Linked DNA regions of Homo sapiens: all the other regions are linked to region 1. The links come from fine-mapping of genetic effects on gene expression. A gene starts in region 1. Each other region holds a variant in brackets. All regions are shown on one strand. Distances are between the middles of the regions. Region 1 holds the start of DTNBP1 (dystrobrevin binding protein 1). Region 2 overlaps DTNBP1 (dystrobrevin binding protein 1). Region 3 has its middle 23 kb from the start of DTNBP1.

What was found. PIP is the estimated chance that this variant, and not a neighbour inherited with it, causes the effect.
Region 2: its variant is the best candidate, but not a certain one, in a credible set for the expression of DTNBP1 in whole blood (INTERVAL, PIP 0.51).
Region 3: its variant is the best candidate, but not a certain one, in a credible set for the expression of DTNBP1 in hippocampus (GTEx, PIP 0.82).

What each region holds. Positions count from the first base shown.
Region 1 is chr6:15,661,433-15,665,785 of GRCh38, forward strand. It overlaps DTNBP1 (dystrobrevin binding protein 1), which reads right to left and starts at 1,596. Exons shown (of 10, transcript NM_032122.5): 1 at 1,382-1,596. The coding sequence starts at 1,437. RefSeq lists an enhancer at 803-852 and a silencer at 1,083-1,592.
Region 2 is chr6:15,594,436-15,598,435 of GRCh38, forward strand. The region is part of intron 6 of DTNBP1 (dystrobrevin binding protein 1); the gene reads right to left. Among named protein-coding and RNA genes, the nearest start is that of DTNBP1-AS1, 50 kb to the left of the region's middle. The variant T/C (reference allele first, on the strand shown) is at 2,326.
Region 3 is chr6:15,683,820-15,688,172 of GRCh38, forward strand. No RefSeq gene overlaps it. Among named protein-coding and RNA genes, the nearest start is that of DTNBP1, 23 kb to the left of the region's middle. The variant G/A (reference allele first, on the strand shown) is at 1,907.

The sequences.
Region 1 (4,353 bases):
GAGGATCACAAGGTCAGGAGTTCGAGACCAGCCTGGCCAATATGGTGAAACCCGTCTCTACTAAAAAATACAAAAATAAGCCGGGCGCCTCTAGTCCCAGCTACTCAGGAGGTGGAGCCAGGAGAATCGCTTGAATCCGGGAGGCGGCGGTTGCAGTGAGCCGAGATCACGCCACTGCACTCCAGTCTGGGTGACAGAGCAAGACTCCATCTCAAAAAAAAGGGGGGTGGGGGGGAGAAATTTAAAACAGTATGAGTGGAAATGTTCTCACATTCAGTGCATCCTCCAACAGGATTTGTAAGCTAAAGTTGAAAGATCCTTTTCAAAGACAGATCTTTTTCACTTTAAAGGAATGAAAAAATTAAAATTAAGCACTAAGTAACAATACTGACATGATGCTTGCTTCGTGTTTTACACATTAATTCATTAATCCTTGTAATAACCTTTTAAGTACCATCATTATCCCCATTTTACGGTAGCGGAAACAGTACATTGAGGCAAGGCAGCTGAGTAACTACGTTTGATTTAGTGGTCGAGCCAGGATGCCTAGGCAATCTGGCGCCAGAGTCTCGGCCTGTGGTTCCCAGGCGTTGGTGCCCACTGGAATCCCCTGGGGATCTTTAAAACGCCGTCTCCAGGCACTCTGGTCAACAGGTAGGGGGTGAGACCTGGGCATCAGAACTCTGAAAGGTTCCCAGGTGATTCTAAGCAAAGTTTGGGAACCGCTGGGTATTAAAAGCATTCCTAAAGTTCTGTCGCTTCTCCTGCTTAGGAGTTCCTTCGCCGAGGCGCTGAGCTCACGGCAAAGGTAGAGAAAGGACGCAACGGGGAGGGGCGGCCAGCCTTGCCAAGGGTTAGGCCGGCGAGCCGGGCGTGAAAGCCGAGACGCGGCGCGGAAGGCTGTGGCCGGAGGGTGCAGGCTGCTGCGCGGTGCGATCCGACTCGGGGAGGGTGGCTGGCCCAGCTCCAGGTGCGCACGAGCAGGTGTCTGCTGGGCCGAGGGGCGCAGGCCACTGTGCCGCGGGGGCGGAAGCGGTGAGGCGCGCTGGCTTCTCACATGACTTCCCTCCAGGGCCCAGCTGATGCTGCCGGGAAAGGACCGCAGGGTCCCACACCCCCCCCGGGCGCTCCGCTGCGCCGCCGAGCGCCTCCCGGTCCTGGGGGGTGCGCGTCACAGGCGGCCCGCAGGGACCTAAGTTACTTTGCGCCGCCCGACGCGAGGACGCCGGGAAGTTCGTTACTTTCCTCGGCGGGGCGGGGCGGGGAGGTGCGGGACAGGACGGACCCTGGACCGTGGCGCGGGGAAGGGAGCGAGGCAGGGGCATCCCAGGCGGCGGCCCGGCCCCCTCAGGTCCCTTTTCGTCGCCCACCGTATACCCACCCGGAGGTGAAATCCTGCTGCACGCTCAGCAGCCGCTCGCGAAGGGTCTCCAGCATTGCCGCCGCCGCCGGTCTCCTCTCCTCAGGCCTCGGGCTGCTGCTGCCTCTGTCGCCCCCTGGGTCCCACGCCGCCAACCCCGCGCTGTCACCGCGCGCCCCGCACTCCCACTACCGGCCCCGCCCCCGGTCTGGTCCTCGCCGCCGCGCCGCAACCCCAGCCCCTTCCGCGTTCCCGCCCCGCGCGCGCCAGGCTCGCGCAGCCGCAGTGGACTGCGCCGGGCTCGGGCTGCGGAAAAGGGGCGGGTCTTCCCCCGACCGAGAGGGCCAGTAGCTCCTCGGCTCATTCCTATCCCGCACCAGGCCTTCTCGTTTTTTTTTTTTTTTCTTTAAAATGGAAGCGGCATCGTGAAAGGATGATTTAACTCGAAGCCTCCTTTGAGGGAAGTGTTGGCTTTTACGTTTTGGAAGAGAATTGGATCTCTCTCTTCAATAGGCGATGTGCACAAATCATTGCATGGATTCTAGGTCCAGGATCTGACCCCACTGGCTTTCACCTTGAATGAGACAGTCAAATATTGAGCCTCGGTTTCTTCATTCATAAAATGGCAATAATAGTCGACTGTCTCGACATTCTTACTTTCCACTCTCTCTTTACCCCCCCAGGCTTTTGTGCCCTACACACCAAAGGTGATCGCCTTTCGCGAGTCACCAGTGACTTCCATGTTGCTGATGCCTTTTATTACTTCTCTGCCCTGATTTTTTCTCCACCTCTCAGTGGCTTTCAATGCAGTTTATCATCCCCATCCTTAAAACACTTTCTTCTCTTGCTAAGCACTCCATAGTTCCTCTCTCCCTTCCGCTCCACCCCTTCTCCTATTTTAATAGCCACTCCCAAGGCTACAGTCCAGCCTCCCCAGCTCTTCTCTCTTCTCCAGATGTGTTGTTCCATAGATGGATAGCATAGAGTCTATCCATTACCACGCTGTAAATTCTGTCAAGGAACCGATGACTCCCACAGCTCTATCTTCTGCCCTGTCCTTCCTCCCTCTCCGTCAATTCATACCAGTTGCTTACTCATGTAAGCATGTATACAACATGTATCCAAAAGGCATCTCAGACCAACATACACAAAATTGAAAATTTCATTCATTGCATGTTCACCTTTAATCTGCTCATCCTGTATTTTCCGTTTCAGTAAATGACACCACCATCCACCAATTTGCTCAAGGTAAGACACTTGAAATCACCTCTGGTTCCCCTCTTTTCCTCATTCCCCATATTAACCCATCAAATCCAATCAACTCTACTCCTGAAGTATTTCTGGAACCTCCTTCTCTTTCTATATCTTCACTATATTTATCCTGGTCGAAGGCACCATCCTCTTTCAATGGGAACACAGACAGTTCTTCCAGATTCTACTCTTTTGCCATACACACCCCTATAATCCATCCTTGACACAGCAGCCAGAAAGAGTTATTTAAAAGATCAATCGGATCACGTTGCTCCCCTGCTTAAAATCTTCCAATTGCCTCCTGGGCACTTGGAATAAAATTCAAACTACTTACCCCCTTAAAAAGCCCTAAAATTTGAATGTTTTCTAGCACTGTATCCAAATTGATTACTAGTCACCTATCATGTCCTTGACAATTAAGACATAATAGCCTTTTTTTTTTTTTTTTTTTTGGTGTGTTCTTAGAAAATTCCAGGTTTATTTCCACCTGTGGTGTTTTCACAAACTTTTCTCCAAACTGTCCCTTGTCTGGCTCCTTATAACATAAGGGTCACATCCTAAATAGCATCACATTAGATAGGTTTTACTTACCATTCAAGTTACACACCCAATCACTTCCTATCACGTAGCCTGTTTCTCAACTTAGTACACATTAGAAAATTTATTCAATAATTATTTGCTATTTATTAATTTAGTTGTTTACAAACATATTTTAAAACCACGACAAATAAGGCATTCACCTCAGGTACAAAATTTACGGGAGCCAAAAAGCTCAGTAATCAAGATAAGTAATATTTTAATACAATATTTAAAAAATTCAAAATTAATGAAAAAAAATCTGTGATGAACAAAATATCAAAATTTTAAATACACAGGATCTGTTAGGGCTGGGATTGGATGAGGCCAGTGAGGTAAGTAGCACAAGTACAGGCCCAGATGTAAACTGCTCTGTCTTATTAAGCTTTGCATCCCCAGCAATGAAAACAGTGAATGGCACATAACAGACACCCAGTAAATGTCTTGTTGCAGGAGTTAAATAAGATAAAGGACTTAGCTTGTAGCTGGGGGACCACCTCTTCCCCACTCTTGATGTTTTCTTCCATGGGAAGGGAGCTCTTCTGCTAACATAAAGAAGTACCCAGCCTCTCCTGGTGGGGAAGAGGTGACTACGATGATTAGTGAGCTAGAAGTAAGGAGCTTGGTCTCATCTTCTTTTCTTTTTGTTGAGTGAACACTTCCAACAAAGAGCATTCATTCTGCTGCCTAAAGACAGGCTTGAAGGGCAACCCAGTGCTTTTTGTGACTGGGTACTAGAAGTTCTGCTTGCCCATGAATATAAGCCATGTGTTCCATCAGTCTTCCTAGATATAAAAGTGATATTTTGGCCTCTTTATGCTGACACTATTGTTTTATTTCTCAGTTTGCTCAGACAAGTAAGAAAGAGGAGTGCTGTTTATTGAGCCTTCTTCTACCTCTCAGAAACAGTGCCTGGAACAAAGCAAGTGATCAAATGATCAAATCTACAGACAGGTCCCTTAGTATCTAGTAGATTTGAAAACCACAAGTACTGGGAAATATTAAATTTTTTTCTTTTATTCAATTAAACTCTACACATAAGCTTTCAATTTACTAAGTTTCATACATTCCAACAAAGCACCAAATCCACTCAAAAAAGACTCTTGCCTGTCACTAAAAAATAGCTTTACTGGTTGTGCCTGATCATTTCTGTCTTGACCAATGCA
Region 2 (4,000 bases), 67 kb before region 1:
GCCTGGGTGACAGAGCGAGACTCTGTCTCAAAAAAAAAAAAAACGAAACAAAACAAAAAAACAAAAACAAAACCTGTGTAATTGTTTCCCTTCAGTCAATAATCAACTTCATTCTTAAAAGCTTAGCTAGGTACAAGCTAAATATGCCTAAAACCTGCTTTATACCCCGATAATAAAAACCAGAATACAACAGGAAGGCAATATGTATCACAAGAGAATCTCAAAAAGATATCTTCAATCTACTTCTTAGTGACATCCTCACATTAGCAATTCCCCGACGTGGGGAAAGTTGACAGAACACTCAGTTCAATATTCTAATGAGTAATTCTTTTTTTTTTTCTATGATTACAATGTTTAGAGAGCTTCTAATTTTCTTCTTTTAGAATGTGTGACTGTGAGCAGAATTTCTAAAGGGCTCTCTTGTTTTAAAAAGCTGAAACTCAGAATAATGATTTCACAGACACTGTTATTCTCCTACCCCCAAATACTAACAACCATAAAAACAAGGAATCCAGCAACTACTATTAAATACATTAATGAGTGAGTGTGCAATTGAGGAGGGCGGTTTTCCTGTGGACTCATCCTGCTCACCCTGCAACCGTCTGTCTGCTGCTGTGAAGAGGACAAGCCCAGCATCTTCTGGGCATCCTCTGTCACACAGCGTCATGACCCACAACTCCACAACTGTCAGCGAAATTTCCAGGAAACTTCCCTTCAGAAAATCATTCCTGTACCCAATTCCTAAAACAGATGACTGCTTGAAGTAGTGGTGGTACAAATAATTGGTTTAAAGAAAAAAATCAGTATTATGCAACTTTTTTTTTTTTTTTTTTTTTTTTTTTTTTTTGAGACAGAGTCTTGCTCTGTCACCCAGGCTGGAGTGCAGCGGTGTGATCTTGGCTCACTGCAACCTCTGCCTCCCGGGTTCAAGCAATTCTCCTGCCTCAGCCTCCCGAGTAGCTGGGATTACAGCCACCCACCACCACATGCCTGGCTAATTTTTGTATTTTTAGTAGAGATGGGGTTTCACCATGTTGGCCAGACTGGCCTCAAACTCCTGACCTCAGTTGATCCACCTGCCTCGGCCTCCCAAAGTCCTGGGATTACAGGCATGAGTCATCGTGCCCAACCAGTATTATGGAACTTTTAAGGAACTGATGAGGTAAAGCAGCAGCACTGAAAGCCTTGAAATTTCACAATTGTTAGGGTGTACTCCACCATCTGTTAGAGGTACTCAGCATTTGGAAATATAGAAAATGTAAGAGAAGGCAGGGAAAGGCATGTCAGTCACAGGCAGCAGTGACTGTGAGGTCACAGAGGCCAAAGACGACGCAGGTTATATTTAGGAAACAGACTTCAGAACAGCAATACTTCAGCAAGTACTTGTCCTGGAGCAAATACTTCAGAACAGCAGGCTGAATGAAGAGAAAGTAATTCAGATAAAAAGGTAGAGAGTTCTCAGTGCCAGGCTAAAATATTTTGTTTTATTTTTAGCAGGAGAATAACATGAGCAAAGCTGTATTTTAGGAAGAACGTTCTAGCTGTGATGGATGGATATACTGGCAAGGGAGAGAATAAAAGCAGTGAGTACACAGGAAACTCACGTTGGGGGCACGTGGGGAAGAGCTAATTAATACTTGGCAAGAGCAATGTTAAGTGGTAATGACAATGAAATGAAGGATTCCAATTTGAAAAGTATCATAAAGAAGACTCAACAGCCCAAGGCATCTGACTCAATGGGGTAAGGAGAGGAAGGAGACAAGCATGCTAACCGGGGCAGTTCTAGTCTGGATCATAAGAAGGAAAAGATTTTGGAGGGCAATGCATGAGTTCGGTTTGGAAATTGCTGAAACAGGAAGACTGAAAGCTGCAGACAGGATTCCCATCCCCTTCAGCCTACTCGAGGATTTAACTCCTACAGATTCCTACTCCCTCGCTTCGCATTCACTCTTGAACCCATTCCAATTTGGCTTCTGGACCCCCCATTACACAATCAACACCACCAACAATCATCATGTTGCCAAATCCAGAGACCACTTCTCTGTTTTCATCCTAATCCTTAAGCAGCATTTGACCCAACTGGTGGTTTCTTGAAACAGTTCCCTCTAGTGTTCTCCCACCTCCTCAGTTTCTTTTGCTATTGTCTCCATCCCTTCCAGACCACCAGATGCTGGAGTGCTGCAGGCTTGGTTCTGGGCCCTCTTCTCTCCTCAGCTTACATTCGCTCATAAGCCAATTTCATCCCTAGCTTTAAATGCCATCCATATGCTACTAACTTCCTGATTACATTTCCTGTCTTGATCTCTTCTTTGAGCTCCAGACTCA[T/C]ATGCAACTGCCCATTTGATAGCTTTATGCAAAAGTGGAGTAGGCTACTCAAACATTTGCAAGACAGCCTGTTCTTCTCCAGTCGACGTCATCTCAGTTAATGGCATTACCCGGCTCCTCAAGTTTTGGCTCATCCATCTCCCTCATTCTCCATCCAATTCATCAATAAATCCTGTCAATTCCATCTCAAAAGATAGCCTGAATTGATCCACTTCTCTCCATCGTCACTGCCATCAACCTTATATAAATATCCATTTTCGTATACTAAATATAATCTTGGTTGAGTTCAATCATTCATTCAACAAAAATTTACTAAGCCTTAGACACTATGATAATGTTAGGAATAGCATTAGGAATAATGCTAGGTTTGGAATAGACATGTTCCATAACCTCAAGGAACTTTAGTGGGAGAGACAGAGAAATAAAGCAATAATTAGAAATCAATGTCATAGATTATAGTGCTTTGGTAATGACATGCTGAGGATTCTCTAGGAATAAAGAAGAGAGGACAACTCATACACTTAGGTTTGGTAGGAAAGGCCTCCTGGAGAAGCAAGGACTGAGCTGATGCATTTTCAAGGACAGTATAACTGATGATGATGGGCAACATTTATCGAGAACATGGCAGATATTTTACTCTTAAGCATTAAGACATACTCTCAGCTAACCAGATGAAAAAGCATGGGTAAGCAGGAGTTTTAAGTTCCAGTCACTCTCCTTCAAACTGTGTTATTAGCATAAAAATGCTAATAATAATAATTAGTGTAAAACAGCCTTCAAGTTCATCTTTTCCAAGAAGACTTCATTGACATCCAATCAGTGATCTCTCCTTTATCAAAAATTCTGTAGCACTAAACTCTATCAATATTATACATTTCATGTGCTGCCTTGTAATGTGGTTCTGTTCATACAGGTATCGTCTCTACAGTTCCTGAAGTGCAGAGACTGCATCTCTTCCATCCTGCATCACATGCGTGCCCAGAGTTGGACCCAACAGACACTCAGCAAATCATGATTACCAAGTACTGAGGCTGCAGGATGACTAAGATCTGCTTCTTCAAAGAGGCCATTGCTGTAATAAAATATAGATTTTATTTTTGATAAAGTTTGATCAAATATTATCTCATTTGAAACAACTTGTTTGTTGCTTGCATTTTCTAAAAATTGAGTTTATTTCCATAGTTTAATAGTATTTTCAGAAGATCAAACAAAAAATTGAAATGTCTCATTTTAAATGTTAACATATTTCAAAATTTACTCAATTCAGCTAATGCCTTTACAAAATTTAGCATAACCCTAAAACTAAAACATTCAAAAAATAACAGCAGGATCAAAAGCTAATAATATTCCAAAGGGTGAAACTGCTATTATTTAATCATTTTCTCTCCAGGGATTGAGTTATAAAGAATAAAAATGAAAGAAAGAATCACATTAATAAGCCTATGGAATGTTACAAGAAGTATATTAAATCTATATATATGAGTAGAAATCAACTAGCTCAGACTGAAGATGAAAACTTAATAGACAGAAGCTACTGGATAAATGCCTCCATAAACACAGATAAAGCAAACTCTCTCTAAATCCTAAACTGCCTCCCTAGGACAAATCCATGATAAAAGGCTAACACAAAATACCACATTCAAAACACCAACTGCAAATTGCACCCTAACATTTT
Region 3 (4,353 bases), 22 kb after region 1:
TCCCTCAGGCTTGACTTGGAGGCCACTTACTCAGGGAAGTCTCTCTTGTTGGTTCAGACAATGCTAGTCCCCAGTTATTTACTCTGAGAATGTCTTCTACTTTTTCTTTCAAACACACATAATTATAAGTAAATAATTATCTAGGTAATTATTTAATGCCTATCTCTCCTTCTCTCACCATCAAACTTTTAAGGACAGAGAGGGCAGAATCATGTCTGATCAGTTCACCTTACATGCACAGTGCCAGTTATATAGTAAATGACCTAAATATTTTTGAATGACGTATACTTGTGGCCATTTTTCCTTTTTAGAGCTTCACCACATTTAGATATTGTGCAAAACATCCCAGAATCTGGAATGCACTCTAGTTCCACAGGGGCTGTTCCTCACTTTGCCTGATGGCCAATAACATGCATAAGTCTCCTTTATTCCCGCCTCAACAGGAGTGTGTGCACACACAGACACACACACACTCACTTACACACAGACTCACACACTCACATCCCTCTCTTTATTTCTATATTTGCATCCAGAAGCAAATATGTGTCAAGGGGATGTTGACCTGGTTAGAAAATCCTACTCTGGCAGAATCTTAAATATTTGCTACATAAATTCATCAGTGCAAGGGCAGACTTTATACTTAGAAACGTTCAGAATTGCCTTGGTTCCAAAATTTAAAAAGGAATCCAAAATTAAAAAAAAAAATCAAATTGTCTTAAAATGCTAAATATAGAGAATAACTATGGATACCAAGCCCCTTGATAATCTTATAGATAGCTGATCTACACTCATGGCTTCAAACATTACTTACGTGTTTGTCTTAGGGTGGGTCACCCAGAAGCAGAGCCTGATTTGTGAGCACACGATTTCTTAAGGAAATAATCCCCAGACTGGTAAGGGAGAGGGGGATGCAAACAGAGGAGAAGAAGCCCAGCAAAGGTAGGCAGTCTTTGCAGAGGGTAGTTTTAGCCCAGTCCTGGGCGTAAAGAAACCCTGGGGCTTGAGGTATGCCCAGAGTTTTTCAGAGAAAAGAGAACTAGGCTTTCACACACCTCGCCCTCTGCACCCTGTGCCTGTCTGTCACTGGTCAAGGGTTGTCCTAGAATAGGAGTCCCCAGACCCTGGGCCACAAACCGGTACTGGTCTGTGGCCTGTTAGGAACTGAGCTGCACGGCGGGAGGTGAGTGGTAGGCGAGCAAGCAGGCAAAGCTTCATCCGTATTTACAGTCACTCCCTATTACCTCTCGCATTACCACCTGAGCTCCACCTCCTGTCATATGGCGCAGGGGTCCCCAACCCCCGGACCGGTACCATGGACTGGTACTTGTCCATGGCCTGTTAGGAACTGGGCTGCACACCAGAAGATGAGCAGTGGGTGAGAGAGTGAAGCTGAGCTCCACCTCCTGTCAGATCAGCGGCGGTGTTAGATTCTCATAGAAGCGGGAACCCTATTGTGAACTGCATATGCGAGGGATCTAGGTTGCAGGCTCCTTATGATAATCTACCGCCTAATGATCTGTCACTGACTGCCATCATCCTTAGATGGGACCATCTAGTTGCAGGAAAACAAGGTCAGGGCTCCCGCTGATTCTACATTATGGTGATTTATATAATTATTTCATTATATATTTCAATGTAATAATAATAGAAATAAAGAGCACAATAAATGTAATGTGCTTGAATCATCTCAAAACCATCCCTCTGCACCACCCGGTCCATGGAAAAATTGTCTTCCATGAAACCGGTCCCTGGTGGCAAAAAGGTTGGGAACCCCTTTCCTAGAGATAAGTAAATTTCCAGGTATATCTTGTTCTGTAGTTGTAGGGGGCAAAGCAGCTCTAAAAGCCCAAGGGCAAGGCTCCAAAGAGACACAGGTGCTGGGTGTTAGAAGCAAAAGCATGAGTGG[G/A]GCTCTCAGAAAACAAGTTACTCCAGGGAATCCAGGTGGAGCAGATGACTGTCCACTACAATCCTTACTGCTCTCAAAATTTCCTCCAGCTTGGACTTTCCACCTGAACTTCAGACCCATGCATCCAACTGCCTACTTGACATCTCTACTTGGATATCTGTGTCAGTTACTTATTGCCACAATAATGTTGTATAACATACAACTACAAAACCTTAGGTGCATATAATAACAAACTATTTTTTTTGTTTACAGTCTGTGGGCCAGCTGGGCAGTCCAGATTATTTGAATTGGGATTGGCGAAGCTCATTTATGCATCCGTTGTCGGCTGTGGGTTTGCCGAGTGGCTTGACTAATCTTTGCTGGGCTTTCTCAAATGTATGGGGCCTCAGCTGGGACAACTGAGCTGATTCCGCTCTGCTGCACATGTCTCATCCTCCAGCGGGATGGCCTAGGAGAGAGGGAGAGAGGGAGGAAGAAGAAGAGAGAGCAAGAACTCTCGCGCGAGAGCCCCCTAATTTGCAAGGCAAGGCAGGCAGCATTTATAGACAAAACAGAAGTGAGGTACAGAAACAGCTTGGTTACAGCTCAGTAACCAATCAGCAGACACCATATTTGAACCTGGTCTGATCAGTTGGCCACCTGTGACCTACTGAAGCTCAGCTGCTGTGATTGGCTGGGACTCAGCTATTTGTTACAAAAGTCGGCTCATGATTTCTGCTTTCATTTAATTTATGTCTAAGTTGGATTGCAGTTTGTTACATAGGGACTCAAAGTATGGAGGCAACCCCAGGTGGGAATTTGGCTTCATTTAACAAGGCTTAGACCCAGAACTGGCCACTGTTCCTATTACCACATTCTATTACCAAAAGAGAGTCACTGGTTAATTCAAAGGGTGGAGAAATAGACTTCACCTTTGATGGAGGAGCTTTAGAGGCCATTTCTGTAAACAGCCTACCAAATGCCTAACAGGCATCTGCTTTATTGGTGGCAGTTGAGCAAAGTTCCATTGTTAAAGACAGGTCACGCCTGTAATCCCAGCACTTTGGGAGGCCGAGGCGGCGGATCACGAGGTCAGGAGATCGAGACCATCCTGGCTAACACGGTGAAACCCCCGTCTCTACTAAAAAATACAAAAAAAATTAGCCGGGCGCGGTGGCGGGCGCTTGTAGTCCCAGCTACTCGGGAGGTTGAGGCAGGAGAATGGCGGGAACCCGGGAGGCGGAGCTTGCAGTGAGCCGGTATCGCGCCACTGCACTCCAGCGTGGGAGACAGAGCGAGACTCCGTTTCGAAAAAAAAAAGACTTACAGGACACCAAATGACAGTGCTTACCGATCTACAGTTTACTGCCGGAAAAGGATACGATATAGCAGCAGCATTGAAGTAGGGGCGTGCATCACAACCAAGGGTTGTGTCACAGCAAGGGGTCCAGGGAGGCCAGGTGCAAGCTCCAATTATCCTCCCTCTGTAAGGGCCGTGCTTGACATGCCCTCTCCCAGATCAGGAACCAATGATGTATGCACGGAACACCTTACAACTGGGGAGCCCCAAATAGAGTCTTATCTCGGGTCTCAGGTGTTTTGTTTGTTTGTTTGTTTTTTGAGATGGAGTCTCGCTCTGTCGTCCAGGCTGGGGTGTAGTGGCGCAATCTCGGCTCACTGCAAGCTCTGCCTCCCGGGTTCACGCCATTCTCCTGCCTCAGCCTCCCGAGTAGCTGGGACTACAGGCGCCCGCCACCACGCCCAGCTAATTTTGTTTTTGTATTTTTAGTAGAGATGCGGTTTCACTGTGTTAGCCAGGATGGTCTTGATCTCCTGACCTTGTGATCCACCCACCTCGGCCTCCCAAAATGCTGGGATTACAGGTGTGAACCACTGCGCCCGGCCAGCAAAGATATTACTCTCTATCATGTTTGTATATACATATACACTCATATATGAAAAGTGAAATATAATTGAAACAAACTGGTTAAGCATTCCTAAAACTTCTACACATTCCGAATCCAACTCTTCAGAACCATTTTTGACATTGACTCATTAATGTCCATGTTTTAAAATCAAGAATGTTCTTGAAAGAGTGCTCCACTCTTGTCTCTGGAATTCTCCCCCAGGTCCCCGACACGATTTAGCACTTTTGGACGAATAAGCACAGGCGATGATAGCTACATCGTGACGGCTGCCTGGTCTCAGTGACTGTAACAGGCACCCTGATTTCAACAATGTTAAAATATAAAAAAAATTTGCATCTGAGAGTCAGTGACATAAGGAATACAATGAGATACCCATTTCCAAAAGTCTTAATGATTTATTTTTTATTTTTTTTGAGATGGAGTCTCACTCTGTCACCCAGACTGGGGCACAGTGGCGCGATCTCGGCTCACTGCAAGCTCTACCTTCCGGGTTCACGCCATTCTCCTGCCTCAGCCTCCCGAGTAGCTGGGACTACAGGC